Linked DNA regions of Homo sapiens. The protein of the gene in region 1 interacts with the protein of each later gene in a pairwise test. Each region holds a gene or a part of one and is shown in the gene's direction. Other genes may lie near its edges.

Region 1 (7,572 bases):
AGTTTATCCACTCATCTACTGAAGGATATCTTGGTCGCTTTAACATTTTGGTAATAATGAATAAAGCAGCTATAAACATACATATGCAGCGTTTTTTGGTGGACATAAGTTTTCAACTCCTTGGGGTAAATACCAAGGAGCATAATTGTTGGATATTATGGTAAGAGTGTGTTTAGTTTTGTAAGAAACTGCGGCTGTACCATTTTCCATTTCCATCAGTGATGAATGAGCGTTCCTGTTGCCCAGCATCCTCATCAGTAATTGTTGTGGTCGCTGTTGCCGATTTTGGCCATTTTAATAAGTGTTCAGGGTATTTCATTGTAGTTTTAATTTGCAATTCCCTAATGATACAGGTAAAGATAGATGTGGAGTATCTTTTCATATGCTTAATTGCCATCTGTGTATGTTCTTTGGTAAGGGGTCTCTTCAGATTGTTTGCCCATTTTTTTAAAATGTGGTTATTGCAACTAGGGAACTGGATTTTTTGTTTTATTTAATTTTGATTTGTATTTATTTATTTGTTTGTTTATTTTTAGGGACTCCTGTGCTCAAGTGATCTTCCTGCTTCAGCCTCCCAAGTAGCTGGAACTATATAGCATGCACCACTACACCCTGTTAAGAAAAATAATTTTTTAAAATAGAAACGGGGTCTTGTTATATTGCCCAGGCTGGAGTGCAGTGACTATTCATAGGTACGATCATAACGCACTGCAACCTTGAACTCCTGGACTCAAGCAATCCTCTGGCCTCAGCTTCCTGAGTAGCTGGGACTATAGGCTTGTGACACTGCACTTAGCTTGGTGGCCTATTTTTTAATGAGGTGGTTTGTTTTGTTATTGTTGAGTTTAAAGAGTTATTTGTGTATTTTGGATTCAAGTCTTTCATCAGATACATGTTTTGCAAATATTTTCTCCTAGTCTGTGGCTTGTCTTCCCATCTTTTGATTTCACTCTTTCTATGGTTTGTGTTTCTCATCTTTTCCATCTTTTTCCTCCCTTTCTCTCTCTCTCTCTCTCTTTTTTTTTTTTTTTTTTTTTTTTTTTTTTTTTTTTTGAGACAGAGTTTCGCTCTTGTTGTCCAGGCTGGAGTGCAATGGCGCAATCTCGGCTCACCGAAACCTCTGCCCCCTGGATTCAAGCAATTCTCCTACCTCAGCCTTCCGAGTAGCTGGAATTACAGGCATGTGCCACCATGCCCGGCTAATTTTTTGTATTTTTGTATTTTTTTTTTCTTTTTTTTGAGACGAATTCTGGCTCTGTTGCCCAGACTGGAATGCAGTGGCGTGATCTCGGCTCACTGCAAGCTCCGCCTCCCGGGTTCACGCCATTCTCCTGCCTCAGCCTCACGAGTGGCTGGGACTACAGGCGCCCGCCACCACACCCGGCTGATTTTTTGTATTTTTTTTTTTTTTTTAGTAGAGACGGGGTTTCACCGTGTTAGCCAGGATGGTCTCGATCTCCTGACCTCGTCATCCGCCCGCCTCGGCCTCCTAAAGTGCTGGGATTGCAGGCGTGAGCCACCGCGCCCGGTCAATTTTTTGCATTTTTAGTAGAGTCGGGGTTTCTCCATTTTGGTCAGGCTGGTCTGGAACACCCGACCTCAGGTGATCTCCCTGCCTCGGCCTCCCAAAGTGCTGGGATTACAGGCATGAGCCACCTCACCCAGCTTCTCCCTCTCTTTCATCAGTGCAGAGCATATCCAGTCTTTTCACAAAGCAAAACAAAAATCCCAAGTGCCACAGCCAGTCAAATCAAAAGAGATCTGCATTTGTTATTAGGATAATTCCTAAAGGGTCTCGGGATATTATAGAGCCCAAGATTTGAAAAAGAAAAAAAAATGCATCTGCTAGTTCAAGGAAAATAATGATAAATTATTTTAAAATTACATGAAAATAATTTATATAAAATAAATTAAAATAATTGAAAAGCATATATAATATTGAAATAGGAAGTCGGTAAGAAAAATAAACAGTGCTTAAGTCTCTGAAGAGGTCAGTCAAAGCCTTCAAAGCTCTCACCTAGAAGAAACACTTCTTTTATGAAAGTTCAGACAAAGCCACAAGATGACCAGCTAAACTCACACATTGGGTTAAGAGAAGAGGCAACAGGAGCACATTTCAAAGGGCTTATTCAGTGACGTTGTTTCACCAAGGACCCTATACTTGTGAAAAATAAAATAAAATAAAGTTTTCCAATCATTCTGTAAAACCACAAGAAATTTCTCTGAATAAGGAATTGTTTCCTTGAGAAAGAACAGACAGAATAGAGATGTAAAGAACCTAAAAAGAAAAAAAAAATCCCTGTTGAAGCACATAATGCAAATCTATTAAAATATTTTAGAATTCAGTTCCCCACTTCCATTTTTTCCTCCCTCCTTTGGTAAGCATAAAAACAAACATGGTTGCTGGTGATATGCAGAGCTGGAATCAGATTCATCTTGCTCTCTCAAACTCAACGTCAAAAAGGAAAACAAAGGTCCTCTAAGACTCCCTTTACATTTGGTAGTTAATAGTAACTTATAACTATGTTTTTAACTTTCTTTTGTTGAGTCATGGACTCTCCTCCTCCCTGGCTCCTAAGTTTTCAGGGTCAACGGGCAACCTTTTCTAAATCACAAGACTGGATTTGCTATGTTTGGTCTTGCTCCAGCGTCTTTATTATCCCTGCTGTTGTGCACTACACAGTTCTGTAGACACATGAGATAAAATGGAGAAAAAAAACCAGGAGATTATTCCCAGACCGGTTGCCAACTGATTTTAAACTGTTGCTCACTGCAAGTACACAAAATAATGAATGGTCTTTTATTCATGAGTCTTTCAAAATAGAAATCCTGGGGCGGGGAGGATTTCTAGTTTTGTCAACCTCATTTGTTCATCCTTTGCCTCAGCTTCCTAGTCTGTTCAGTAGTGTTGTTCACGAAGAATTTTGTTTTATTTTCTTCTGTAATTCCTTTTTTCCCCCCGGAGTATAATGACAGCCAGATTCTTCTCTATCATCTACTGCAAAATGCCTTGAGTATTTTTCTACCATCTTATTTTAACACAGAACGAAGTAGGAAGGATGTACATATAATTATTTATAATCCTCCAGATCTTGCTTCCAGAAATACTTAGTCTTCAACTGTAATGTCTCAGGGAACCTATTAAACTAGGGAGCTGGAAGCAGTCGTTGACTTTGAGGAATTAGATAACATTAGATACTATGAAAGTCCAGTCCATAGAGTCAACCTCACAGAGCCGATGCCTGCACAAGGGCGACCCAGGAGTTTAAATAAGTTGCTGCAAGTATGGTTAGCTACTGTTAAAACTCACCAGAACTGGAACCTAACTCATCCTCCTCTTGGTTGAGCAGATTTCATTTTGACAGGAATTTCTGAATACCCAAAGCAAACTCAAAGTCTGGCCTGGGTTTCTATCTCAGCCCAGGATGCTTCTGAAATACATGAACAGAAGGATTTGGAGATCTTGGGCTGTTTCCCTGGGACTTATGATCTGACATTCTATGGAAATACCCAACTCCCTCCTTGAGCAGGGCCAAATCCCCAAAGATCTCAGACTGAACCCACTTTTTTCAGGGTTGGCCCAAGGCAGAGCTGACACAGCTGTAACATTCTAGAGCACACCCACAACTCTGGATGAACCAGGACAGAATGGGGTGGAAGGATACAAGATAACACATTTGTCCAAGGGGGCCGTCTGTTGACACAGTAATGAACGCAGTAACGACGGGAGCCAGTATTCTACCTCGCATTAGTTGTAAATGAAACGTCTTCAAAACATGAGAATTTTGCGTTATCCTTAATTATTTTTTCATTTTGCAGAAAAATAAAGGGACTCGTCATCGAGTACTTTGAGTCACAAATCAGCCAAGTGTGCATGTGGTTTTTTTCCAAGTACGCACAAGAGTGGAACATTTCGTTTTACGAGTGTGAGATGTTTGAAATACAAATCTGCCAAGAGCTTCCTCCACATTGGTCTGGGACTAGGCAGAACAGGCCCTGACCTCCTGAGAGAGGGAAGGAAGACCAGGCAGGTCTGAGCCAGGTAAACGCCCTTGGGTGAGGTCCGTGAAAGATAAAGTCAGATCTCAAGGACAGAGAGCTTTAAACATGTTTGTGCTCCACTGAGTCGGTTACCTAATAAGTGAGAAAATGAAGATGTGGATGCACAAAAATTCCATGGCCTTTAGGCTCGCGGTGGGGACAGGGTACAGGGAAGCGGCGGTCTGGTGCTGCCAAAGGTTAGTCCCTTGTACCCGGCGAACTCAGGAAAGTTCACTCGATTTCGCTACAAACCTGCAGCACTCGGCCTGGAGGTAACCTGGTTGGGAGCGAATTCAGAACTGGAAATTCCAGGCGGCCCAGAGGGACACCCATCCCTCTCCGAGGCGCGCCGGGATCCGGCGCCCAGCTGCGGGGCGAGGGCAGGGTCCCGCGCAGCACCCCACCCCCGGCCGCTGGCCCCGCCCCCGCCCCCGCCCCGCCTCCCAGGGGATGTGCGAGCAGTCTCCGCCCTCGCGCGGGAGCTGGGAGGCTGCGAGATCCCTACCGCAGTAGCCGCCTCTGCCGCCGCGGAGCTTCCCGAACCTCTTCAGCCGCCCGGAGCCGCTCCCGGAGCCCGGCCGTAGAGGCTGCAATCGCAGCCGGGAGCCCGCAGCCCGCGCCCCGAGCCCGCCGCCGCCCTTCGAGGGCGCCCCAGGCCGCGCCATGGTGAAGGTGACGTTCAACTCCGCTCTGGCCCAGAAGGAGGCCAAGAAGGACGAGCCCAAGAGCGGCGAGGAGGCGCTCATCATCCCCCCCGACGCCGTCGCGGTGGACTGCAAGGTCCGAGCCCGGGGAGGTCGAGGAAGCGGGTGCTGGGCCCGGCCGGGGAGGGCTGCGCGGACTGCAGCGGCAGTGCGCCCCGAGGTGGCGGGCGCGGGGCTCGCGCCGCGGGGACAAGTCCCCGAGAGAGCCCGGCGCTCCCGTTTCCTGTGGGTCCGCAGCTCCTTTGTAAGGAAGTGCGTGTGCTGGAAGCGGTGCCTGACGCGGGGTCGGGGGCTTGGGAGGCCTGGAGAGGGAACGATTGGCTAATTGTGCCGAATTCCCGGTCGTTTGTGCAGTCCGGGGAGCGTGCGTGCAGCCAGGACTTGGCTTGTTCGATCTGGGGACCGGCAGCGACAGGCACAACAACAACAACCGAGTTTGGCACTTCCTTCCCAGTATAAATAATGTACCTAAAATGGCTGACATCATTACAAGCCTAAACCTCTGTTGTTTCCCACTTTCGTTTCTAGGCTTGAACAGCACTTGGACTAAGTCCAGCAACTGTAAGCGTCTTAATTTTAAAAGCGTTTCTTTACCTCCTTTTTCCACGGCCCTTCGGTAGTGGCAGGTGAACTTCACCTGGAGAGGGGACGAAGGGACAGTCCGCCCGAAGTAGGTTTGGGCTGTCTCTTACCATTACTAGTAAAGGCCAGTAATGACTATGTGGATGTTAGTGAAAAACCAATTGTTGGCATTTAAATTGTATCAGCGTCTTTGTGAGGACTCCTGCTGCGTGAAACTAAACATGAGAAATTTGCCCCCGGGTCCCTAATAAAATTCTCCTTTATTTTACAAAATCTCCCTTTAATCCTAGGAAAATTCATGAAGTGGGGCTGTTACTGTGTTGACTTTTAGTAGGTTACGATCATATTTACTTAAATATGAGTGTAATTGTCTCATAAGTTAAAAAAGCCCACAGCCTCTTACCCAGACCCTTTTTAGGCTGCAAAAATTAGAAATTAACTGTAAAGTTATGTTGCTTATCTTATTTTTTGTTGTTGTTAGCATTTTTCAAGACCTATTATCAGTAGGGTAAATTTAGTTTTAACTTAAAAAAATTGGTGTGCCACGTATGAATAATGGGAGTTTTTATATGGACGAATGAAAATTATTGCTGAAAAACAGGCCACTAATATACTGTAAAAAATTCACAATATAATGGTAATCTAGACATCATATTATAATTTATTATATTCTGAATATAATCTATCTTCAGAATATAATGGTAATCTTACTTTCTGGAAATGTTCTGATAAAAACAGACACGTCAGAGGTTGATTTCTAAATGACTTGCCTTGCCTTGAAATAGGAACAGTGAACTGATTCCCTAAAAGGATTAAAGGTTTTGGTTTTCGTATTGGTATTGTTTTCCTGAAGCCATTGCAAACAATCTTGGTCTTTAAAGAAAATGTTTGGAATGCACAGATGAAAATTGCAGTAGCAAATTATTATGTTAGCTCTTTGTTTATCTAACATTCGTTGTACCTAAAATAGATTGAGAGTCAAGTATCCAGTCACAACAGTCTCAAATATATGTAGTCTTAATGCTATCACATATATATATATACACACATACATTTAAAAATCCTATTAACAAATATAACTGCTCCCATTTAGAAAGGAGAGAGTGAGCGAGCATTGGATGATGTCACTTCAGACAGCTTTTCTCTGTTCCGCTGTAGTGGAGATTTGAAACTCTGGACAAACATCAGAATTACATTTGCTGAGCACCATTAAATCTGACTTCTGACAATTTTTGTCATTTCTGAAATAGTGACTCTGCCAGATTCTCAAAATTGCTCACGAGTTCACCATATTTAAATTTTGTGGTCATTGCAGCTATAAGTAATCATTGGTAGCTCCGTGCTTTGTTTTCCATTTTTTATTTTCTCAGATCCTCCATATCCAAAGAAAAATACTACTGGGACTAAAGAGTGAGGGCCAGAGTCGTCTTTGTAAACCACCCAGCAGTCACGGATGAGTTGGTAGATAAAAAATGACTAATTCTTTTTCCAGCTATAAGCTGAAAGACTTCTTTAGGGGATGACAAAATATTTCTCTACATTAAAAGTAGAATCCTTATAATCAGTCAGTCGCTTAACGGGAAAAGGAAAACCTTAATGACAGACTTTTGTGAAAGAAGTTCTGATCTCTTCATTTCAGAGCTTGGGCAGTGATTACATAATGTTCTCTGGCTCCTTGCGGGTGGCTCTGTGGCAGCCACCTTGTCTGACTGCCTGGACTGGGAACAGAATCAGCCTTAATGTGTTTTGCCGAGGGCATTTCCTTTGCCTGGTTGGTTGAAAGAATCAAACCAAGCTAGTTAATGGCCTAGAACTCCTGAACAAGAATTTTTCTTATCTTTAACCCTCCCAGATCACAATATCCCGCAGACCATTGTTTTCCAAAATGTGCTCTTAGGGACCACCTGCTCTGGTTTTAAAATGCAGATTCTGTTACCTTATGCCACAAGAATTCTGATCACTCTAATCAGCTGGCTTATATAACATGCATTCCAGTACTTTTACATTGCTCCTGTCTTTCTATTTTTTTCTTCTGCAGGGTGAGAACTCTCCAGAAACAGTTCTATTACCCCATTTTTCAGTCTTATCTTTTCAGCAGCTATTAATCCTAACAGCCATTTCTATTGATAGTTTTATCTCAACTAGCTTGCTGTTTATTCTTTTCCTGCATTTTCCCCTTAATTGTTTTCACCTTCCTCCTCTCCTAGTAGGCATAAAGCTCTTAGAGCTATAGAGACAGCAAAGA
Region 2 (7,025 bases), on another chromosome or scaffold:
AGTCCAGGAAGCTAGTGCCAGGGAGCCCACAACTAAAGCAACTGTGTGGCTTGCACTATGATTTCTAACTAAGCCTGCATCAGCCAGTCTCTGCTCTCTGGTGGCTTGGACTCTCTCCCCATCTGTCTGTAAGAAGGACGCCCTTTCTTCCTACCTGGCGCGGCTGTTGTAAGTGCCAAATGAGAACTTGGATGGCATTGTATTCTGAACAAGAAAAAGTAAAATTTGGGGAGCACTTTCTCTGTGCTAGGCAATTAATTGGTGGTGCCTGGGGGCTGATCCACAAAGAGACAAGAAGACATGTTTTCTGCCCACATAGAGTTACAGTGGAAGTGAAAGGGCGGAAGTGACGAGTACAAGGTCATCCATGCAGATATACTCAAAGCGAGGTCGGCAAACCCTCATTGGAGTCAGCTAAAAATGTAAATTCCCTGGCCCCATCCCTGACCTCTAGAGACAGGATCTCTGACAGTGGGGCCCCGTAGTTTGTGCCTCAAATTTGAGAACCATTTATGGCTGGACGCGGTGGCTCACGCCTGTAATCCCAACACTTTGGGAGGCTGAGGCCGGCGGATCACCTGAGGTCAGGAGTTCGCGACCAGCCTGGCCAACGTGGTGAAACCCCATCTCTACGAAAAATGCAAAAATTATCTGGGCATGGTGGCAGGCGCCTATAATCCCAGCTACTCGGGAGGCTGAGGTAGGAGAATTGCTTGAACCCAGGAGACAGAGGTTGCAGTGAGCCGAGATCACGCCATTGCACTCCAGCCTGGGTGACAGAGCGAGACTCCGTCTCAAAAAAAAAAAGAAAAGAGAATAATGTATTTATAGGAGTGCAGAGAGTGAGTGCCACAGGTGTTCAGAAAGTGATAAACTCATCCAGGAAAGCCGCACCAGGGACATGTGCTCTGAGCATGGTCTTGAAGGATGGACAGGAGTGGCAGGCTATTCCCAGGGGGCAGATGGCACCATACTATCCCACTGTACTGTAATTGCACGTTACACGTATGTCCATGTCTGCTCCTTCCCACCCTACCCCCTTAAAATTGGGAGAGTCCACAGTGAATGAGAGGATGAGTTATGGATGTTAGGGCTTAAGCATGGTTGTTTAGGAGACAATAGAGAGCCAGTCCTGTTAATATTACAGGTTTAGGCTAAGACCAGATAAGTTTGGGTAAATAAAATAGAGCCAAATAGCCATAAAGCTTAAATGTGAGACTATAAGGTTTGGACTTTGGCCTTCAGATATAAGGGAAAATCTGAATTTATTGGGGCAGGGGAATGACATGAAGAAAGCAATCTTTCAGGAAGAGACATCTGAATTTTAAAAAGAGTGGGGGCTGTGTGTGGTGGCTCACGCCTGTAATCCCAGCACTTTGGGAGGCCAAGGCAGGTGGATCACAAGGTCAGGAGTTCGAGACCAACCTGGCCAATATGGTGAAACCCCGTCTCTACTAAAAATACAAAAATTAGCTGGGTGTGGTGGCGCGTGCCTGTAGTTCCAGCTACTCGGGAGGCAGAGGCAGAAGAATCTCTTGAACCCGGGAGGCAGAGGTTGCAGTGAGCTGAGATTGCGCCACTGCACTCCAGCCTGGGTGACAGAGCAAGACTCCGTCTCAAAAAATAAATAAAAATAAAAAGAGTAGGACTGAAAGACACAGGCACAGGGGGCTGTCACAACAGTCCAGGTGTGAGGCCCTCTATGACAAGGAGGGCATGAGGCTGCAATAAGATGGAAAGAGAAAGGAAGGGCAGGATGCAGAGAACGTGCCAGGGCAGGTGGGAAGGATTTGGTGACATTGGTGTGAAGGGAAAGGAAGAGGGCATCAAAGATGGTTTTGAGATTCTGATCTGGGGTGAACTGGAGGATAACAAGACTGTGGGAATAGGAAAGGTGGCAGGAGGGGATGGCTTATAGTACTTGTATACAAATTTATTTGCTTGTTTATTAATTACAGGGTCTCTCTCTGTTGCCCAGGCTGGAGTACAGGGGCACAATCGTAACTCCTGGGCTCAAGTGATCCTCCTGCCTCAGGCTCCTGAGTAACTTGGATTACAGGCACATGCCACCAGCCCCAGCTGATTTTTTCAAATTGTCTCACTATGTTGCCCAGGCTGGTCTCCAACTTCTGGGCTCAAGTGATACTTCCACCTTAGCCTCCTATTAGTTTTTCCCTTACAGCAATTCCTGCAATATATAAAAGGTCTTTACTTCAGTGAGCTGTGATTGCACCACTGCAATCTCCAGCTTGTCAGAGGATGACAGAGACCCTGTCTCCAAAAAAGAAAAAAAAAAAAAAAGGTCTTTATCACTCACAGTGTCTAGCAGAAGAAATGGGGTTGAAAGGTTAAACCACTGGCCAGGTAGAAGGCCAGTAAGTTAAGACCTGTTTCATCCTTGTTCTTCCTACTGTGCCATTTGTCTTGGGGAAGAAGAAGTTATCACAAGCATCCCTCTTCCATTCTCCCATTACACCTGCTTATATCTCCATTACTACACTTGTAATGTATTACAACTGTTTTTGTGTTTGTTTCTCTCATAAAACTTCAAGCTCTGGCCAGGCGCAGTGGCTCACGCCTGTAATCCCAGCACTTTGGGAGGCTGAGGCAGGAGGATCATCTGAGGCCAGGAGTTCAAGACCAGCCTGACCAATATGGTGAAACCCTGTCTCTACTAAAAATACAAAAATTAGCCAGGCGTGGTGGCAGGCGCTTGTAATCCCAGCTGCTCGGGAGGCTGAGACAGGAGAATTGCTTGAACCCAGGAGGCAGAGGTTGCAGTGAGCTGAGATTGCACCACTGCACTCCAGAGCGAGACTCTGTCTCAAACAAACAAAACTTCAAGCTCTTAAGGACAATGTCTTTTTAATTTTATTTATTTATTTTGCAGTATCCTCTCTTTGTGTTATAATAATCTATAACAATACCAAGCTCAGAACATACACCTAAAAAACATTGAGTGAATGAATACATAAGCTGCAAGCCTCTAAACAGAACTGTTGACAGGCAGTTGTAAATGCAGAACTGTAGCTCTTAGAGAAAGTATTTTTATTCTTTTAAACGAAAGGGCCAGGTTCAGCAGCTCACGCCTGTAATCCCAGCACTCAGGTGAGGCCGAGGCGGGTGGATCACCTGAGGCTGGGAATTGGAGACCAGCCTGCCCAACATGGTGAAACCCCATCTCTACTAAAAATTCAAAAATTAGCCAGGTGTGGTGCTGCATGCCTGTAAACCCAGCTACTCAGGAGGCTGAGGCAGGAGAATCGCTTGAGCCCGTGAGGTGGAGGTTGCAGTGAGCCGAGATTGCGCCACTGCACTCCAGCCTGGGTGACAGAGTGAGACCCTGTCTCTAAATAAATAATAAATAAATAAAAGGATGTTATCTCATTTTGATATTATGAGCATCACTGACCAAACATAGGATAATAAGGTAACTGTTAGGAGTGAAATTTGGTGATAGTCAATTCAGTTTAACAGATATTTGTTGAGTACTTGCCTACTGTGTGTAGAAGAGAAAAATAATGCCATAGTCTTAGCCCTTGGACAGCTCACAATCTGATGTGAGACATAGACATAATACCTAAATATTACACAAAACCAAATGCATTTGGTACAAATAGTGAAACAGTGGATCTTGGAAGTGCACAGAGAGAAGCAGCTACTTCTGACATGGTATTAGGCACAGCTTGCTGGAAAAGGAGGGTTTTGTTTTGTTTTTGTTTTTGAGAGGGAGTCTCGCCCAGGGATCCACCCGCCTCAGCCTCCCAAAGTGCTGGGATTATAGGCGTGAGCCACCGCGCCCAGCCAAAACGGAGGTATTTGAAAGAGGAGAAAGCTTTGCAATATGGAGAGTGGTGAGGAGGAGCACTTCATGAAGAAAAGCGTGAACTGTGGTGAGAAGCCAGAAGGCATGGTGGGGATGCCATGGGGCTGACAGGACTTTGGGTTTTATTCTGCAAACAGTAAGGAATCCTTGTAGGTATACGAGAAGAGGGATGATATCGTCTAATTTTAGTTCCAGGAAAACAGCTTCAGTGTGCAGAATAACTTGGAGAGTCTAGCATCATGACTCTAGACATGCAAACAAGGATCTCAGGATACGGGGGCCTGAAAGAGGATGGTGGCAGTGAGGGTAGAAAGGAGGAATCAGCATTCATCCATCGTTTAACCAGTTATTCTCTGCGCTTGATGAGATGTATGGGGTGAGAGAGAGGGAAGAGGAGATGATGGCTTTATTTAACCTCTCTGACTTTTTGTCAGGGAACAAAGCAACAGGGGAAAGCTTTTGAAGCACAATATAGTTTTTTTGTTTGTTTGTTTGTTTTGAGATGGAGTTTCGCTGTGTCACCCAGGCTGGAGTGCAGTGGCGCGATCTCAGCTCACTGCAACCTCCACCTCCTGGTTCAAGTGATTCTCCTGCCTCAGCTTCTCAAGTAGCTGGGATTACAGGTGCCCGCCACCACCCCCAGCTATTTTTTTTGGTATTTTTAGTAGAGATGGGGGTTTCACCATGTTGGCCAGGCTGGTTTCAAACTCCTGACCTCAAGTGACCGCCCGCCTCAGCCTCCCAAAGTCTTAGGATTACAGGTATGAGCCACCGCACCCAGCCAGGAAGTACAATATAGTTTACCAAAGTTTATGTTTATTATTCTGCTTTAATTATAAGGGATAGGTATTAGCATATCTATTTCAGGGATAAGGAAACTGAGACCCAGAGAGACTAAGTGTCTTGTCCAAAGTGATTCTGTTAAGAAGAACAGAGTAGGGGTTCAAATACCGGGGCCTTTCCTTCCTGTGTTCTACGATCTGGGACATGCCTTTGAGATGCTAGTGGGTCATCCTCGTGGAAGTATTCAGCCACCAGCTGACAGTGGGAATCTGGAGAGAAGTTAGAACTGGACAGGCAGACAGGACTCATCCACAGAGAGGCCAAGTTAAAAAATAGACTTGTTCTTTGAGGGAACAGAGAGGGAAAGGAGAAAAATGATTAGGAAAAGAATATTAGGTATAGACAAGGGAGCAAGAGAAAATGATCAGAGCAGTAGAAAACTATGAGGGCTCAGAGTCTCAGAAACCAAGAAGGACCAGGTGGTTTTTCTTTTTTTCCTCTCCTTCCCTGCTTGGCAGGGTTCTGTAAAGGGACCTCAGCGGTGAGGGAGAAGGCTGGGAGCAGTCAACACTCTAGATCCCCGCCCTTCCTGTCACCAAGCCATCCCCATCCCCCCGCCCCAAATCTCCTGAGCATCCCAGGATAACTTTGCTTTTATTGTTTTTATACAGTGGACTTCTGGGTTATATTTTTTTAAAAAAGAGTTTTTGCAATAAAAAGGTTGAAAACCATCGAGCTCAAAGAACCACCCTCCAAATTAGACAAAGCCAGCAAGACCCCGGCTCCATAAGTTGCCTACCCAGTCCCTGCCACCACAACTGGCTTTCCTGGATTGGGCCTCGGGTTGCACACAAGCCCTTGCTGGAGCACTCATCCTGTCATTCCAAACCTCTCCTCTACTCCCCAGACCAGTAAAGAAGAGTTTAGCTGGGAGTGAGGGGGCATTGAGAAAGACTGTGCTCTCTCTAAAAGCACTAAGGTGGAAGGTCAGGAACCCTTCTTGGGCCTCTCCAATAAAGGGCTGGGCAGAAAATTCCAGTTGAAAATCCAGAAAGAGGCCAGGCACAGTGGCTCACACCTGTAATCCCAGCACTTTGGGAGGCCGAGGCAGGCAGATCACCTGAGGTCAGGAGTTCAAGACCAGCATGGCCAACGTGGTGAAACCCTGTCTCTACCAAAAATACAAAAATTAGCTGGGCATGGTGGCACGTGCCTGTAATCCCAGCTAATCAGGAGGCTGAGGCAGGAGAATCGCTTGAACCCAGGAGGCGGAGGTTGCAGTGAGCCAACATCATGCCACTGCACTCCAGCCTGGGCGACAGGGGGAAGACTCCATCTCAAAAAAAGAAAATCCAGGAAGAGAAACACCTCCCAGGGAAGCCCCCATACCTAATGACTAACTTCTGTCTCTCCTGGGAGCCTTCTCTTTCAGGTGCCTGGGCAGGGGAGAGTTCTGGGAAGGAACCAGAACATTTTCTGAGTTCTGGAGCTGCCCTGAGATTCTCCTGGCAGGATGCGACAGCACCTGAGTACATCCTTAGTACCGCAGCCTTGGGTACTATAGCCAGGTGTTTCCCAAAATAGGAGAGCTGGGCTGTGCTGGGGAGAATGAGGAAATCAGCAGAACTGGGGGGATTCTGACGTGGGGGAGCTGGGACTCCTAGGTCCTTTTCCTCAAAGCAAACTGGCCAAGCTCTGCCTCCTCCCATGCCAACTTATCCTCTGTCACCATATTTCCTGAGCTGCTGTCACTCTGGGGCCACCCTCTCTGCTGCGCACTGTAGGCTGGGTGTCCTCTTGCTTGGTCTTTCAAGGTCAGTGAATCTCATCACTTAGCCTTTTTTCTTTTTTTTTCTTGAGACAGGGTCTCACTCTGTTGCCCAGGCTGGAGTGCGGTGGCGCGATCTCGGCTCCCTGCAACCTCCACCTCCTGGGTTCAAGCAATTCTCCAGCGTCGGCCTGCCAAGTAGCTAGGACTACGGGCACGCACAACCACACCCGGCTAATTTATATATATATTTTGGTAGAGACGGGGTTTCACTATGTGGCCAGAATGGTCTCAAACTCCTTGACCTCAAGTGATCCGCCCACCTCAGCCTCCCAAAGTGCTGGGACTACAGGCGTGAGTCACTGTGCCTGGCCCTACCACTTACTCTTTTCCAAGGCCTGTGGAGGTTTTGACAGGTAGGACAAGGAGTGAGTTCTAGCATCTCCCAATGGCTTGAATAAACAAGCCCATGTGCTGAGCGTGACACAGGTGCCATGGTCAGCTTCATTTTCAACTGAGGACAGAGCAAGAGAAGATTCAAGCCACTGTAACCTGTGGGTGGGACAAGGTTAAATAACAGGAAGGACTTACTGTCTGACCATGAAAAACAGGTGGCGAATAGCTGCTGTGATACCTTGTGGAGCATGG
Region 3 (7,303 bases), on another chromosome or scaffold:
TATTCTCTGAGATTTCCACAGTCTAGCAAATTCCAAATGCCTCTATAAATAATAAGCCTTGCTTTTTGGAGGCCAATGTATTATAGGATCCTTAAATCCCCTCCCTTATTAGGTTTCTGCAGTACAGAGGACCAATGAAAGGATTTACCCTTCCACCATTGTTTACATCAACTCAATTTCTAATCTCTGTAAATAGCCCTCTACAAACACCCTCTAGTTGTGGTTAGTGCTGGTTTATCTTGTCATTTATTTATTTATTTATTTATTTATTTATTTATTTATTTAGAGAGGGAGTCACCCTCTGTCATCCAGGCTGGAGTGCAATGGCATGATCTCGGCTCACCACAACCTCTGCCTCCCAGGTTCAAGGGATTCTCCTGTCTCAGCCTCCCGAGTTGTTCAGATTACAGGCATGTGCCACCAGGCCCGGCTGATTTTGTATTTTTAGTAGAGGCAGAGTTTCACCATGTTGGCCAGGCTGGTCTCAGACTCCTGACCTCCAGTGATCTGCCCGCCTTGGCCTCCCAAAGTGCTGGAATCACAGGTGTGAGCCACCATGCCTGGCTTTTGTCATTGATTATTAAACAACACCCACGTGGCAAATTCATGTTTGATTTTTTGGGGCCCCAAGTCTACTTTCATTTCTGCTCCCACATCTGATAGTATTTTTATATGATATTTGAATACATCATTCCATTCTTTGATAATTTCTGCCCTTTCTTCACTGAAATCTAGGATCTGCTACCATCTCACCTGGCTCATCGACATGTAAATCCCTTCAGTACTGATCAATTTCTACCAGTCTTTAGATTTGAAGACCAAAATGCTAATGACCATGATGGATGGTTTTGGAAAAAGACAAGTAGAGCCTCAATGTCTGGCACCTATGGCTGATTTAATTTTAAACTCAGGGAAATGAAATAGGTACTGTGCATAAAAAATATTCAGGTGATTTTATTTAAAGCATTTTTACTAAATTCAAACTAATCAAAAAAACCTTTATTTAAATGACAACTTATTTCAATAATTTTTAAATTTTCATTTTTAATCAATATATAAAAATTGCACATATGTATGACATACGATATAATATTTTGATACATGTATAAATTGTGCATTGATCAAATTAGGGTTTGACAACCTCAGGCTTCATAATTTATGAAATAGACCTCTGCCATTTAAAAACTTTATATCTAAACTTACCAACTAGTAATTAACTGAACATATCAAATAAGATATTATTTAAAAGAGCCTAAATTAATAAAATGTTTAAATACATTTTGAGCTTTAAAATACAATAAATAAATATGACTTATTTTAGAAAAATTTTTTTAAAAAATAGACAAAGGTGGATATAGACAAAAACATGTACAGAAAAATATCAAAAGGACTAAACCCCTTGGAGATTTTAATGGTAAAAGCTTGCTGATATTATTTTTAAAATTATCAACTTTTAAAAAAACATTTTATGGCCATTTGTTAATGAGCATAAGCTTCTACTGAAAATGAAATATTTGCTTCTATAAGAATATACTCTCAGATATTGTATGAGAATATACTGCAGCATTGTATGAGAGGCAAAAAACTAGAAGCCTTTGGAATATTCATCATGGGAGAATGGCTGGGCACATTAACGTACATTCACAGTAGGGAATATTCTGCAGCCATCACGTAAGTTAAGATCTAGATGTATTGATCTGAAGGGACATCTACAAAATATATATATTTTTTGAGCCGGAGTCTTGCTCTGTCGCCCAGGCTGGAGTGCAATGATGTGATCTTGGCTCACTGCAACCTCTGCCTCCCGGGTGCAAGTGATTCTCCTGCCTCGGTCTCCCACGTAGCTGGGATTACAGGCGCCCACCACCGCTCCCAGCTAATTTTTGTATTTTTAGTAGAGACAGGGTTTCGCCATGTCGGCCAAGCTGGTTTTGAACTCCTGACCTCAGGTGATCTGCCTGCCTCAGCCTCCCAAAGTGCTAGGATTACAGGTGTGAGCCACCGCACCCAGCCTACAAAATATTTTTTAATGAAAGAAGCAACTAACTAAAACTTTGTATAGTAGTTATGTTTTTATATTTTATATTCATATATGCAGTGATGCTCAATGGGAATTTTGCAAATCCAGGGGGCATGTGGCAATGGCTGAAGATATTTTTGGTTATCATGTCAGGGAGGTGCTAATGACATAGGGTTAAATCCTACAATGCACAACCTCCCTCAAAGAATTATCAACCCAAGATGTCAGTTGTGCTGAGCTTGAGAAACTCTGTCATAGGGAAAGGAAAAAAAGGATAAGCACCAAACTGCTAGCTTGTTCCTTATATATCTGTGCTGTTCAACTTATAATGTACATTTATTTTGACAACTGAAAATTATCCTATAAAAATAAGTTTATTGTGCTGGCAAAGACAATGATAGAGCAGAGGTGGCAGACTGTTCCCCAAGCCAACTGTTTCCAAAGGAGACCTGAGGGACTGGGTGTGAGTTGACAGTGGTGGGAGCTGGAAGCAGCAAGGGATGCGGGGACATCTGGGGAGCCTGGACCTGACCTTGGAGCTCACTCACACAATCTAAATAATCCCAGAGTGAGGCTGAGGTTTTCCTGAGTTGGATGAGGGCCTGCGAAAATTTCCTATTATTAGGCAAGCCTACTATGAGAGTGAGAAGCCTAAACTCAATTTCCATTTTATAGCCTGGAGTAAACCACTTCTGGTCAGGCAGCAGGGAATCATAACATATCAGAGCTGAATACCTCACTGGTTTGCTGAGGGGCAAGTTAGTAGGTGTTCCTCAGAAAGGATTTTGTGGTCAATTAAGACAGGGAAACTCTGGCTTAAACTGCAGGTAAATTAAATAAGAGGTCTTTACTGCAAGCCTAATCAGAGCCTTTATTATGCTAGTGTCCATCTCCAAAAGGGTGGTCATCAAATGCAGGCCCTCCCTGTCTTGACCAAGTCCTTTTTCTTGAGATCATGTCTTGAGACTTGGATGCCATGCAATACACTTTGGGAAATACTAACCTAGTTGAACGACAGTTTTACTGATGTAGAAATGGCGGCCCAAAGGATAAAAAGTAGCTGAACTAGCTGGTGGGGCTACTTTCCAGACCAATGCTTTTTTCTCCTGCCTAAGACCTTAACCACAGTTGCAAATTAACTACAGATCCTCAGAATTTTCGCCCAATTCAACTTGGAGGGGTTGCAGTGGAGGTGAGGGAGAAGGGAGTAACAGTGAAGCCATTCAAAGCAAAAACCACCTTTAAAGAAATTTTGGCCTTAGAATACAGGGTTTTTTTTTTTTTTTTTTTAATTGGTGGAGGGGGCACCCAGGAAGACCAGACGTGCTCCTGTGAAGCAACGCTCCACCACGTCCTTTTGAAAATACCGTAGCCTGCATGAGACAGGCGGGAGCACCTAAGCCTTCAACTCTCCCCATGTTGCCTCCAATTGACCTCACTGGGCCAGGAAAAGCCCTATAAACTGGTTTTGTATACTCTATCCAAGTAGTAAATTTACTAAAATTACTGGATCCTACTATATACCAGACCTCTGCAAGGCATTGAAGATTCAATGATGAGCATTAATTCCCACTCTAAGGGGATTTTTCTATCTGGTAGGGAAACTCAGATACCGCATGCAGCTAGCCTGTCACAGGGCTATACTGACTAAAGCTCACCCTAAGAAATTTGCACATCTTAGCCTATGGGCAACGGGAAGCCATGGACGGAATATGTTTTCCGTTTCAAACAAGGAACTCCAGTCACAGCAGGCTCTAACTCCATTTCCTATTATCAACTCCCCTTCCTGCTCCTCCTCCCTTAGTAGCCTCGAAAAAGAGTGGCCACTTCCTTCACATCACCAGGGCCTTGGTCCTGGTAGGGGGTCCCGCCCCCGGCCCTGTCCTCCTCCCCAGGCCGGGACCTCCGCGCCTCCCACACACAGTACAACTCTAACACGAAACTGGGCCAGGACTGCAGGTAGGTCCCGTCCAATGCGACACGCTCGCGACGGCCCACGCACTGCCAGAACCAGCCCTGCCACTAACCAGCCTAGTAAGGAACGCAGTGATCTTTAGGAGCCCACTTCTAAATTCAAATCATTTGGGGTTCAGTAAGTCTCTTCACAGACGGGGACCTAATAGCTTCCATTAGCAGCCTCCACGTTTGCTGAACACGACTACGGGGCCAGACCCACAGGAACTCCAATGTGGTTCAGCCGCTCAACTCCAGGGACCAAAAAGACTTTCCCACCTCCCAGCGTTATTAAAGGCAACCCCGCCCCCAAGCCTCAGCCACTACGCGGTGCAGAAAGAGGCAGAGCTGGGCATGCGCAATTTCCGCCCCCGCCACAGTCTTGGGAGTGGGCGGGCTCGAGGGCTGGGAGGAAGCCGAAAGCTGACCGAGAGGAGAAAGAAGCCCGCCCCCGGAAGTCCCTCCTGTCTCTGCAGCTTGTTCCCGGAAGTTTTGCTGCTAGTCGCGGACGCAATGGCTTCAAGGTTACTTCGCGGAGCTGGAACGCTGGCCGCGCAGGCCCTGAGGGCTCGCGGCCCCAGTGGCGCGGCCGCGATGCGCTCCATGGCATCTGGAGGTACTCGGGTCTCCGGGCGTGCCAGGGACCAGAGTGTTGCCCTCCCAGGGTGGTCCCAGGGCGGCAAAGCGGCGCGGCTCGTGCAGCTTCTCGAGGTCCCAGTGGCCGCTTTACGGTCCCCAGTGCCTCAGGCTCTGCAGGCATCTCCCTGTAATTCTGGACCGCTGCTCCTGCCGCTCCCCGAACTCACTCCGCTGCGAAAGTATCCTAAACGGAGGTGCCGGGTGACCTTGGGAGGGACCGGGGCTGCCACCGGGATGGGGAGGGGTCCGGCCTCCCTTCAAACCTGCGCCCACCTCAAGCAGAGTGGGTTCTACATGCTTTTAGACAAATGTCGACAAATTTGCCTCGGTGGTTGGAGAAAGAAAAGCTCATAGGCCGGGCGCGGTGGCTCACAACTGTAATCCCAGCACTTTGGGAGGCCGAGGCGGACAGATCCCCTGAGGTCAGGAGCTCAAGACCAGCCTGGCCAACATGGTAAAACCCCGTTTCTACTAAAAATACAAAAATTAGCCGGGCGTGGTGGCGCGCGCCTGTAGTCCCAGCTACTCGGGAGGCTGAGGCAGGAGAATCGCTTAAACCCGGGAGGCGGAGGTTCCCGTGAGCCAACATCGCGCCATTGCACTCCAGCCTGGGCAACAAGAGCAAAACTCCGTCTCAAAAAAGAAAAAAAAAGCTCCCCCGAGTGCTGCCGCTTGTGTGGATGGGTACTTGGTGGTTCTTAGGGGACCATGGATATGAGTAGCCTTTAGGAGCTTGTGAGCCCGCTAAAACTTATACAGAAGTTTCGGGGCACCATTTTCCTTGATCATTTCTGTTTGTAGTTTTTCTATCAGTCATTTCAGTCAGCGTCATAATTCACGTTATCTTCCTTTAGGTGGTGTTCCCACTGATGAAGAGCAGGCGACTGGGTTGGAGAGGGAGATCATGCTGGCTGCAAAGAAGGGACTGGTAAGGAGAAACTCCCTTCTGTGTCTTCTGTGTAACTTATGGCCTTGGATGTGTTCATAGTGGTCTCCTCTCTGGGAGTATTTGATACAGGAAACTTGGCTTGTAGGAACAGTCCCCTGAGCTTCTGGAAGGTAGGGCTTATTTGGCCTAATGGTTCAATTCTTGTTTTTTTTGTTTTGTTTTGTTTTTTGTTTTTTCTTCAGGACCCATACAATGTACTGGCCCCAAAGGGAGCTTCAGGCACCAGGGAAGACCCTAATTTAGTCCCCTCCATCTCCAACAAGAGAATAGTAGGCTGCATCTGTAAGTACCTCACCTCTATTTTTTATCCACTTGCTTAATATATCCTACAATAGTGTGTAAGCTGCCTCAAATCTTCAGTGTGTGAGTGCATGTTGGTAAGTTTGTCTAAGGGTCTTGACACTCTCAAGCCTCATTATGCCTGATAGTTCATCCTTACTGGAAAGAAGCGCAGCACAGCGGTAAGACTGGCTCACTGGGAGTGCGGCATGAAGGAGTACCCACCCAGCAAATATTTATTGTTATACTGCTTCTATGCCAGGCATCATTTTAGACACTAGGGATACATACCAGAACGGACCCTGCTTTGCGTTCTACATAGGCAAGGGAATTGTTAGAATTTACAGTGACCTTGATACAAGGTCAGTTTACTCATAGGTGAACTCAGAGCCTCAATTTCTTCATCTGAAGAATGGGAGGAGGGCTTGAACTGATCTCTTAAGATATCAACCATAGTCTTACTTGTGTATCAGAGATGTCTGAGGAAAAGAAATTCATGTTGAAAGTCTCCCTTTCTAGGTTGGATGACCATAAACCACCTTTTTTCCCTTTTAGGTGAAGAGGACAATACCAGCGTCGTCTGGTTTTGGCTGCACAAAGGCGAGGCCCAGCGATGCCCCCGCTGTGGAGCCCATTACAAGCTGGTGCCCCAGCAGCTGGCACACTGAGCACCTGCACTAAATTACTCAAAATGTGCTGTAAAGTTTCTTCTTTCCAGTAAAGACTAGCCATTGCATTGGCTCCTTCTCCCATAGATGGCTGGTCTTATTTCTTACCCGTATTCTTTGGTAGGCATGGAATATGCTTATTTTGGGAAAAGCTGTCTGTTAATGCTAGCTTGCCATCCACTTACTGAAAGTGTATAACCAGTGTATAGTGCTTAGATTAATAATAAGAATAGATCGACAACCCGTAATGCAATGAATGGGACCACCTGGTATGAGAGAAAGGGGCGGGCTGAGGAGTCAGGCTGACAGGACTTAAAATATTGGCTCCATCATTTGGCTCTATCTCTGTGGACATGTTCTCTGGGGGTCAAGTACAACTACAAAAAGGTAAGTACCTTACAAGGTGCTTAATATGTAAAGAGCTGAGTGGATAGTAGGTCCTCACAGTATCCTCATAGAGACAGGGTGGCCTTGTGAAGAGAGTTTTGGGGATTTTGAAGTCTTGAGGGACCCAGGTGCAAAGTAAGAATTCATGGGGATACCAGCAGCAAAATTCAGAATATGGAACAATTTCAGAAATCACTGACCATGTTTCTTCAAATAAATTGCAAGGAGTGGGGGGAAAAGCTAGGGAGAACATGTGGAGAAACAGATAAGGGAGATACCAGTCAGCAGCATGCACACCTTGTTTAGATCTTGATTTGAAAACAATTATAAAGGAAAAAAAATTGAGAAGAATTTGAACTCTGGATATTTGATATGTAGACATTTACCACCCTTTCAGGTATTTATATA
Region 4 (7,025 bases), on another chromosome or scaffold:
GTATCTACCCAGGACTGCTTTTTCCACTGATCCTTCCCAATTCTGTGAATATTCAACATCATTGAACAGATTGAGACATATCTACTGAATGCCAGTTATGCAACAAGCATTTTAACCAAGAAGGGTATGAGTAGCTATGGAATTCCAAGGTCCAAGCCCCCTTATTTTTCAATGACTTGCCTTCCCCAACCCCCATAATGCACACCACCACCACCATCACTTTCTGGAACCATCACCAACTCTTGGACTAGAGCTTATGTTGAAGCTTGTTAGGGCTCCTCTTTCCGTAGGATGTAGACTTGCCTCCCCAAACACGGCCATCTTCTCAAACCTCAGCTAAGTTCTTTTACCTGTTTAGATGCTATTTAAATCAGATTTCAAAGGGTCCCCAGTTGAGAAAAAGGAAAATTTTAATCTTTAATCATCTTTTTAAGTCCAGATGTTCATAAATTCTAAAGCATATTCCTATTACGTGAATGCTTAAGTTACACAGGAAACATTCTATAACTGTAGTATTTCAATTTCAGAAATATTTAGGATCCATAGCAATTTAAAAGAGGGAGGAAACCACTGGAGCATTCTAATTTTGTATCACAAACTTCCTAAAGGACCTATATGAATAAAGAGAAAACAACAAATCCTACCAGCTGTACAGAGAGCAACAGGGAAATTTGGCCTCTGTATCACTGTCCAGCATTATTTAAAGCTAGGATTTAGGAAGGAAGCAGGAATTATTTGGCAGATTTGGAAGGATAGTTTCGTTAAGTGAACTTTCTACTTTTTTGGTGGTTATGTCAAAGAATTTTTTTCCTCTTCTCAAAAATAGAGAGGCTTCCCATGAAAGTATTGGATGCAAATGAAACAGGCATACATCTAAAGATATCTTTGGAGAATAAATCCTTACAAGTCACAGAACTAGGTCACACACATTAGTAAGTCAAAAGTTGGAAATTAGGGGAGAGAGCATTTGGAATGCTTTAAGCATTTCCATGTTATTTCTCACCTTCCTAGTTGAAGATCCACTAATCAGTAGTACATTTCTACTTTGGTGCCCTACAAAGCAAACCTTAGCATAGTAAAGACAAGAAAACATTAATGTTTTATTAGTTTTTAATGGGGCAACCAACTTCAAAATCACAGGAATTACAGTGACGGGAGAGAAAGAAGCAGGAGGCATAAAAACAGATTTGTTTGTAGCAGTAGTCTGTTTGTACAATGTTATAATATTTCTGTAACTTGGGCCAGAATGTGGCCATGTTAAATGATATAGCTATTAAGCTCACTTTTACAATCTAAAAGGAACTAATAAAGCCAGGAAACCCTTCTCATCCTCCTTCACAGCCCTCATCCCACACATAGATGTAAAAAGCTTAGAAAGAATATTCTGATGGCTTTTTCAGAAGGAAGGACCTTGATGTGTGTATTGTGGTAAAATGAAAAGCAAAATGAGACAGTATTTAAAAGTGAAAGAGCAGAGTTTTGCTCTGCTGAAAACCCCTTCCCTGAAGAACTGATTGCTGTTGAAGTTAATTGGCCCTTAGATGGGAAGCCCTAAGCCAAGCTCCCACTTACACAGTGTCAAACATCCCGAAGTGGAAACATTTTATGCCAGTCAGGGGAGAGACAGGCAACAATAGCCCAAATGTCATTGCCAAGAAACATCTGATACTTTCTAATTTCTAAACCCCAATGGAAGTGAGGCCTTTTTCATTGATTCTCAGTTCTGAAACTCCCACCCTGTTAGGATTTCCATTCCAAATAATTCAATGAGAGGTTTCCAGAGAAACAGTCACAGAGCTCAAGAGAAAGAACACTTAAATGCTCCTGCTGTAATTGCATCAAAAAATCCGGGTTTTAACATCAAATTTGGCAAATGGTGGGACCAACCCAAGGTTAACTAAGTGGGCTTTCATTGGCATTGAGCTATGTTACTTATAAATTATAACACTATAGTTCCAAGGTTTTTCAGCCTTTTGGCCAACACACACACACACACACACACACACACACACACACACTATACCATCATCTATCAATAGTCTAAATACATAAATAAATGCAGGTCATTTTTATCAATGGCCTAACTAAATTTATATTTAAAAGAACAAGACTTTTAAAAAGTACATACTCCTGTTGGTTTGTAAGTTATACACATTTATCTCTTGTCTTTGATTTAATTAAATTAGTGTTTTAAGTATGAATTTATTTTCCTTTGCTACTCATTACCTGACCACTTTCACTCCTCTAGATACCCTTAGGAATAAACCTGAACTGTTCCAAATCGATTCTTCCAAGAGCTTTGGTGTTGGTACCTTCCTTTCTTTTCCTAATGCAACTGAAAAATTAGACTGAAAATTATTTGACTTAAATAGCCATCCTCAGAGTGAATCAGCATTTCAGTTTTTGGAGATGGGGATGGAAGTAGAAGGTGCACAAAGCGTCCTAAGATGGCAGTTTGAATGTTAGCATCGCATCTACATGCTCATAAGAGGAATTGCTTCAGGACAATGAATCAGTTCATTGTTGCTGCCCCCAGTGAACAGCTCCAACTGCCTTGATGAACTTCTAATGACTGTGAAAGCTAGGAGGTTCTTCTAGTTCCTCCTTAGGGTCACTTGAAGTTCAGTATTTTTTTGCTGCCTGGTAACTAAGTGCTAAGATTTTTACTTGGAAAGAAAACTATGACAATGCCTTCAGTTGTAGCAGAAAGTTGTGGCATTGTGATAATAAACAAAATCTACAAAGTTACAACCCAAATTATACAAGACATCAAAACACTCAGTAAACAAATATATATATTTCACCTACTTAAATCTTATTCATATTAATTATAGGCCTTTTGTTTAGTACACTGGTTATTTTTTAAGGAACCAATTTAAACTTTCAATTTTAAATACATCTATGCTGACGATAGACTTTCGGGTATATACAACCTTCTTCTTCTCTTTTAAAAGTTAAATACATTCCACTATTAACTGAACTTCCATGAAGCAACATTAATTTTAGAGCATGGTAGTCCATAATCAGTGGTTCATTGTGATGTGCTTTATCCAACATGTATCTTAGTGCATGGTTGAGGATGTACTATGTGATATTTTAGTTAACAGTGTGGCATTTGTGGGACTATATTAAAAGCATATCCAAACTACCAAGCTATACCAAGCTGAGGTAGGTAACACCTGCATGTGAAAAACTGTGATATGAATCTTATTTATAAAAAAGTCATAACTAAAACCCTTCTAGACCAAAAAGTTACTGTGTGTTTGTTAATAATCTTCATAGTACTACTGGAATGCTCAATCAGTTATTTTTGGTGTGGCATACTTCAGAGCTGGCCTGTCCGTCTGAAGAACCCTTTCTCTCACAATTACAGTTTGCATGACTAGAACCCGGAACTCTGTTCCTTTGCGTGTATAGTCACTTAGTGTGCTGTCCGGGTGCCACATGAGCAACTACACCCATGTGGCCTTTCTGTCACTCCCTGGAAAATGCAACCTCTACAGCTCTGCTCAGCTCTGCCTGTGTGCATTGATTACCTTCGCTTTAGTAGTTTGCCTGTAAAATGGTGAAGTCTTTCTGATATGCTGAACCTTTGAGCCAGCTTTTGGGAGTTCTTCATATTTTAGGTGAATTTTTGACCAAAGTCAATTAAAGACATAAACCTGTTTTATATCATGGAATTTACTGGGCCAAATTAAGTAAAAGATGAAGTTTATGACCAGAATAAAAAAGCCTTTACCCCTGCACAGCACTGTATCTAAAGGGCTCTAGGTTGTAGAAATATAGTACCCCCTAACAGGGAAAAACCAAGTTGGGGGATTTATCTAAAATGTATCTACCTATTGTTACTGGTATTTCACAAATAATTTTTTTCTTAAAAATATTTACAGAAATGCTTGACACTCCGGTCAAATAATATTTCCCTTTGATAGATTGAAATATTTGCTTTTAGATTACACATACAGTGCTGCCCTTCTCAACAGTCACTCACACGCTCACTCGCCTGTACAAAGGTATCAGGCAAACACTGATACTTTTTTTTAAGAAGGCAAAATTCCATCTATGGTGCTTTCTCAGTGCTAGGGAAAAGGGAGCTTTTACTATGTTCCAGCTATAACTCACATCTTACTTATAAGGTCCATAAAATCGGTTCTTCACACTGATTTCGTTTGATTAGTCTGTGCATGTAATTAATTTCCTCCAAACAGAGAGAGTGGAGGGGAAATAAATTTTGCAAGCATTCTAGATAACAGAAATGAGTCATTTTAAAACCTCACTCAGAGCTCGAGTGTTAAGATCAGACCATCTAGCTAGTGGACAAATTGAACTTTCTATTTGCAGTTCTCTTTTACTTTCTGACTTTCTTTTAAATTACTGCAGTTTTTCAAAACACTATCCTCATGGAATGACAGGACCAAGAATAGAAAATGAGACTCAAATTTCACCATTTACTTCCCATCAGCAACCATTACTGGTGGAGTTTCAAACAGTCATTACTTGCTGAAATGAGGTTTGAGGTTACCTGTGTATTTCATTCACCTGTGTTAATATTTCCTTCATCGTGGACAAGTGAGAGTTGGCTGTGGCTTTATTTCTTGAGGCAAATTATTTTGCATTCATGTTATTTGGGGCTAGGTATTGCTTAGGTTCGTGAATGCTGTTCTTACAGACACAGATGGTACCTGAGCCCCTCAGACACCTGCCCTTTCAGGGACGTGAGCATGACTTACATCTGTCAAGTGGTTCCATACTTCTTGTAAAAGTAAAGTTTGGGTATTGTTTGCTGTATCAATATGATGGCTTTCCATGCATTGTCTCATTATCCCTAGGATACGTGCTAAAGGAAAACTGTCCTGTAATTCCTGTTAATATATTGTTAATGTCAGACGTGATGTGATACCGTTAGACTGTCCAAATGTACAACAATTTAATGGTGTTTGTAGAACTGATATGTCTTAAATGTTGCATGAAATATGTTATAAAAATAGATTTGTTTTCTATTTTCAACACCTCAGAATTGAGGGTTCATGGGCCAATAAGTGCAATATTTAATGACTCACTCAGTGTATATAAACTAGTATGAAAGAGTGAATTATAATGAATGTGTGAGATGCTTTGATAGCTGTGTGACTTATTCAAATGATTTTCTTGTAGCTGTATTTGTCTAGTGGTGCAATTTATACAGTAAATATCTTATTGGTGTCATGTAAAACCCCTCTGTGCCTACTTCAAAATACTTTTTTCTTATAAAACCAAACATTTAGTATCTGGAAATATGTGTCAATTTTATCTCTTAGAATTGTGGATTTTATTGTCAAGACAGAATGGCTGTTCATTTATTTTATAAAAGCATCTCCTTCTATAACTCAAAATTTTCTTTAAGTGTCATATAAAAGTGTACATTTTACTTTTAAGCAACTAATTTAGATACCTAAGAAAAACTATGTGCATTAGGAAAAGTCATGTTTTTCTTCTCAGAAAGGTTGATCACATGACATGTCTACTAAGAATTTTCACCTCTGTACTTGTATGTATATTTTATTGTTACTCAATCTTGTATTTTATTTACAAATTCAACACTGTCAACCCTGGGAATTCTAAAATACCAATGTATTTTTAGGTTGTAGCTAATGTTGTATTCACTTTCAATTCTCAGTTGTCCACACTGGTGATATAAGAGGAACAAATCAGAATCATTAAATACTTTGTAATGCCATCATAAACTCATATATTCATCCTCAAACTCCCTTGTTTAATGCTAATTGGTGGCCTGGAACTTCACTGAGATGCAAAATCAAGAACTGAAGCCTAGTTGCTAGATAACGAAAAGCTATAAATGTTTATGTATGTGAATTTTAAATTAGAATAACCGTCTTAAACTCCTACTTGCCATTTCTAAGGCAAAGCATTCATTTTAATATTGTACTTTGCCTTTTCATTCAGTTAGTGGAGTAAGTCATGAAACCCTTAGGAAGAAAAACAAGTTATGACTTATTCACTAAAATTGATGCAAGACAGTTGGTTCTAGATGACCATGGCCATGTGTTCATCATATAAAACCTTCAGTTCTCTCTATGGTGCTTGGCTGGAGATTGACATGTGAGGATGTGCCAATCATATTAAATGGATTTGGTCTATGTGGGTGATATGTGGCCTGAATGTAACTGTGATAGACTGAAATTTGTTCTTAGCTCTCAAAATCCACTGAAGAAGTCAAGTGAAGGTGGGTAAAATAGGGAGATTAGTGACAACTTTGTGCCAAATTTTTTAAAAAATGGAAGCAGGTAGCCAATATTAGAATGATAATTTAAGGGTGTGGTTGAATTTTAGTTAGTTGTCACATAGTTATTGAACCTCATATGCTCAGTGCTGTGGGAATCAAACATGGAAGAGGTATGGCTCCTGCCCCTAATGAGAACAAGGGGGAAAAATCCAGATATAATCTAAATGCTAGGTTATGTCAGGGTATAGGAACACAGAGAATGGGGGACCTGTAAGAACTGGAAGAGTCAGAGAGGGCTCCATTGAAGAGGTCAAACATAATTCCGGAAAGAATTAGGTAGTGAGGAGATTGTGCCAGGAAAATAAGTGGGAAAGGCCACAGTTATGTTTCCTTTGAATGGAAGAGAGACAAAGCTATCAGCTATAGATCATTGTTTTCTTAAGACAGCCAAACTGGCCCTTTGAAACCATTCAAATTACCCCAGTTTAGCTCCCTACCTTTTAGTCTCCGTGAGGAAGACAAGCTGTTGCATTATCATATTCCTCTGTGCTGAGCAGCTCAAGACTCAGCCACAATATGCAAATTGCTTTAATGCCATATTACGGCAGTTGATTTAGACATTTGCCAGTGCACCAAACCATGAGAGATTGTCCGACCTAATGCCACCTGGCAGATGTGTACCCAGAGATTTTTCTGTAGCTCCATGTTTCCCATAAAGGGCATTGGAAATGCACAGATGAAGATCTTCCTTTGGAACCAGGCACATTTGGCCCCTTCTCAGTGACTGCACTGTGGAACTCTT

Evidence for each region.
Region 2: the proteins of ITM2B (region 1) and BACE1 interact in binary tests that used the Homo sapiens proteins (3 or more experiments, as listed by UniProt).
Region 3: the proteins of ITM2B (region 1) and COX5B interact in binary tests that used the Homo sapiens proteins (3 or more experiments, as listed by UniProt).
Region 4: the proteins of ITM2B (region 1) and RAB3C interact in binary tests that used the Homo sapiens proteins (3 or more experiments, as listed by UniProt).

What each region holds. Positions count from the first base shown.
Region 1 is NC_000013.11:48,228,657-48,236,228, forward strand, and holds the start of ITM2B (integral membrane protein 2B), read left to right. Parts: upstream 1-4,549; 5' UTR 4,550-4,704; coding exon 4,705-4,821; intron 4,822-7,572. UniProt on the Homo sapiens protein: Plays a regulatory role in the processing of the amyloid-beta A4 precursor protein (APP) and acts as an inhibitor of the amyloid-beta peptide aggregation and fibrils deposition. Plays a role in the induction of neurite outgrowth.
Region 2 is NC_000011.10:117,306,252-117,313,276, reverse strand, and holds part of BACE1 (beta-secretase 1 isoform A preproprotein), read left to right. Parts: intron 1-7,025. UniProt on the Homo sapiens protein: Responsible for the proteolytic processing of the amyloid precursor protein (APP).
Region 3 is NC_000002.12:97,641,601-97,648,903, forward strand, and holds COX5B (cytochrome c oxidase subunit 5B, mitochondrial precursor), read left to right. Parts: upstream 1-4,461; 5' UTR 4,462-4,486; coding exon 4,487-4,589; intron 4,590-5,466; coding exon 5,467-5,540; intron 5,541-5,743; coding exon 5,744-5,843; intron 5,844-6,395; coding exon 6,396-6,508; 3' UTR 6,509-6,783; downstream 6,784-7,303. UniProt on the Homo sapiens protein: Component of the cytochrome c oxidase, the last enzyme in the mitochondrial electron transport chain which drives oxidative phosphorylation.
Region 4 is NC_000005.10:58,852,057-58,859,081, forward strand, and holds part of RAB3C (ras-related protein Rab-3C), read left to right. Parts: 3' UTR 1-7,025.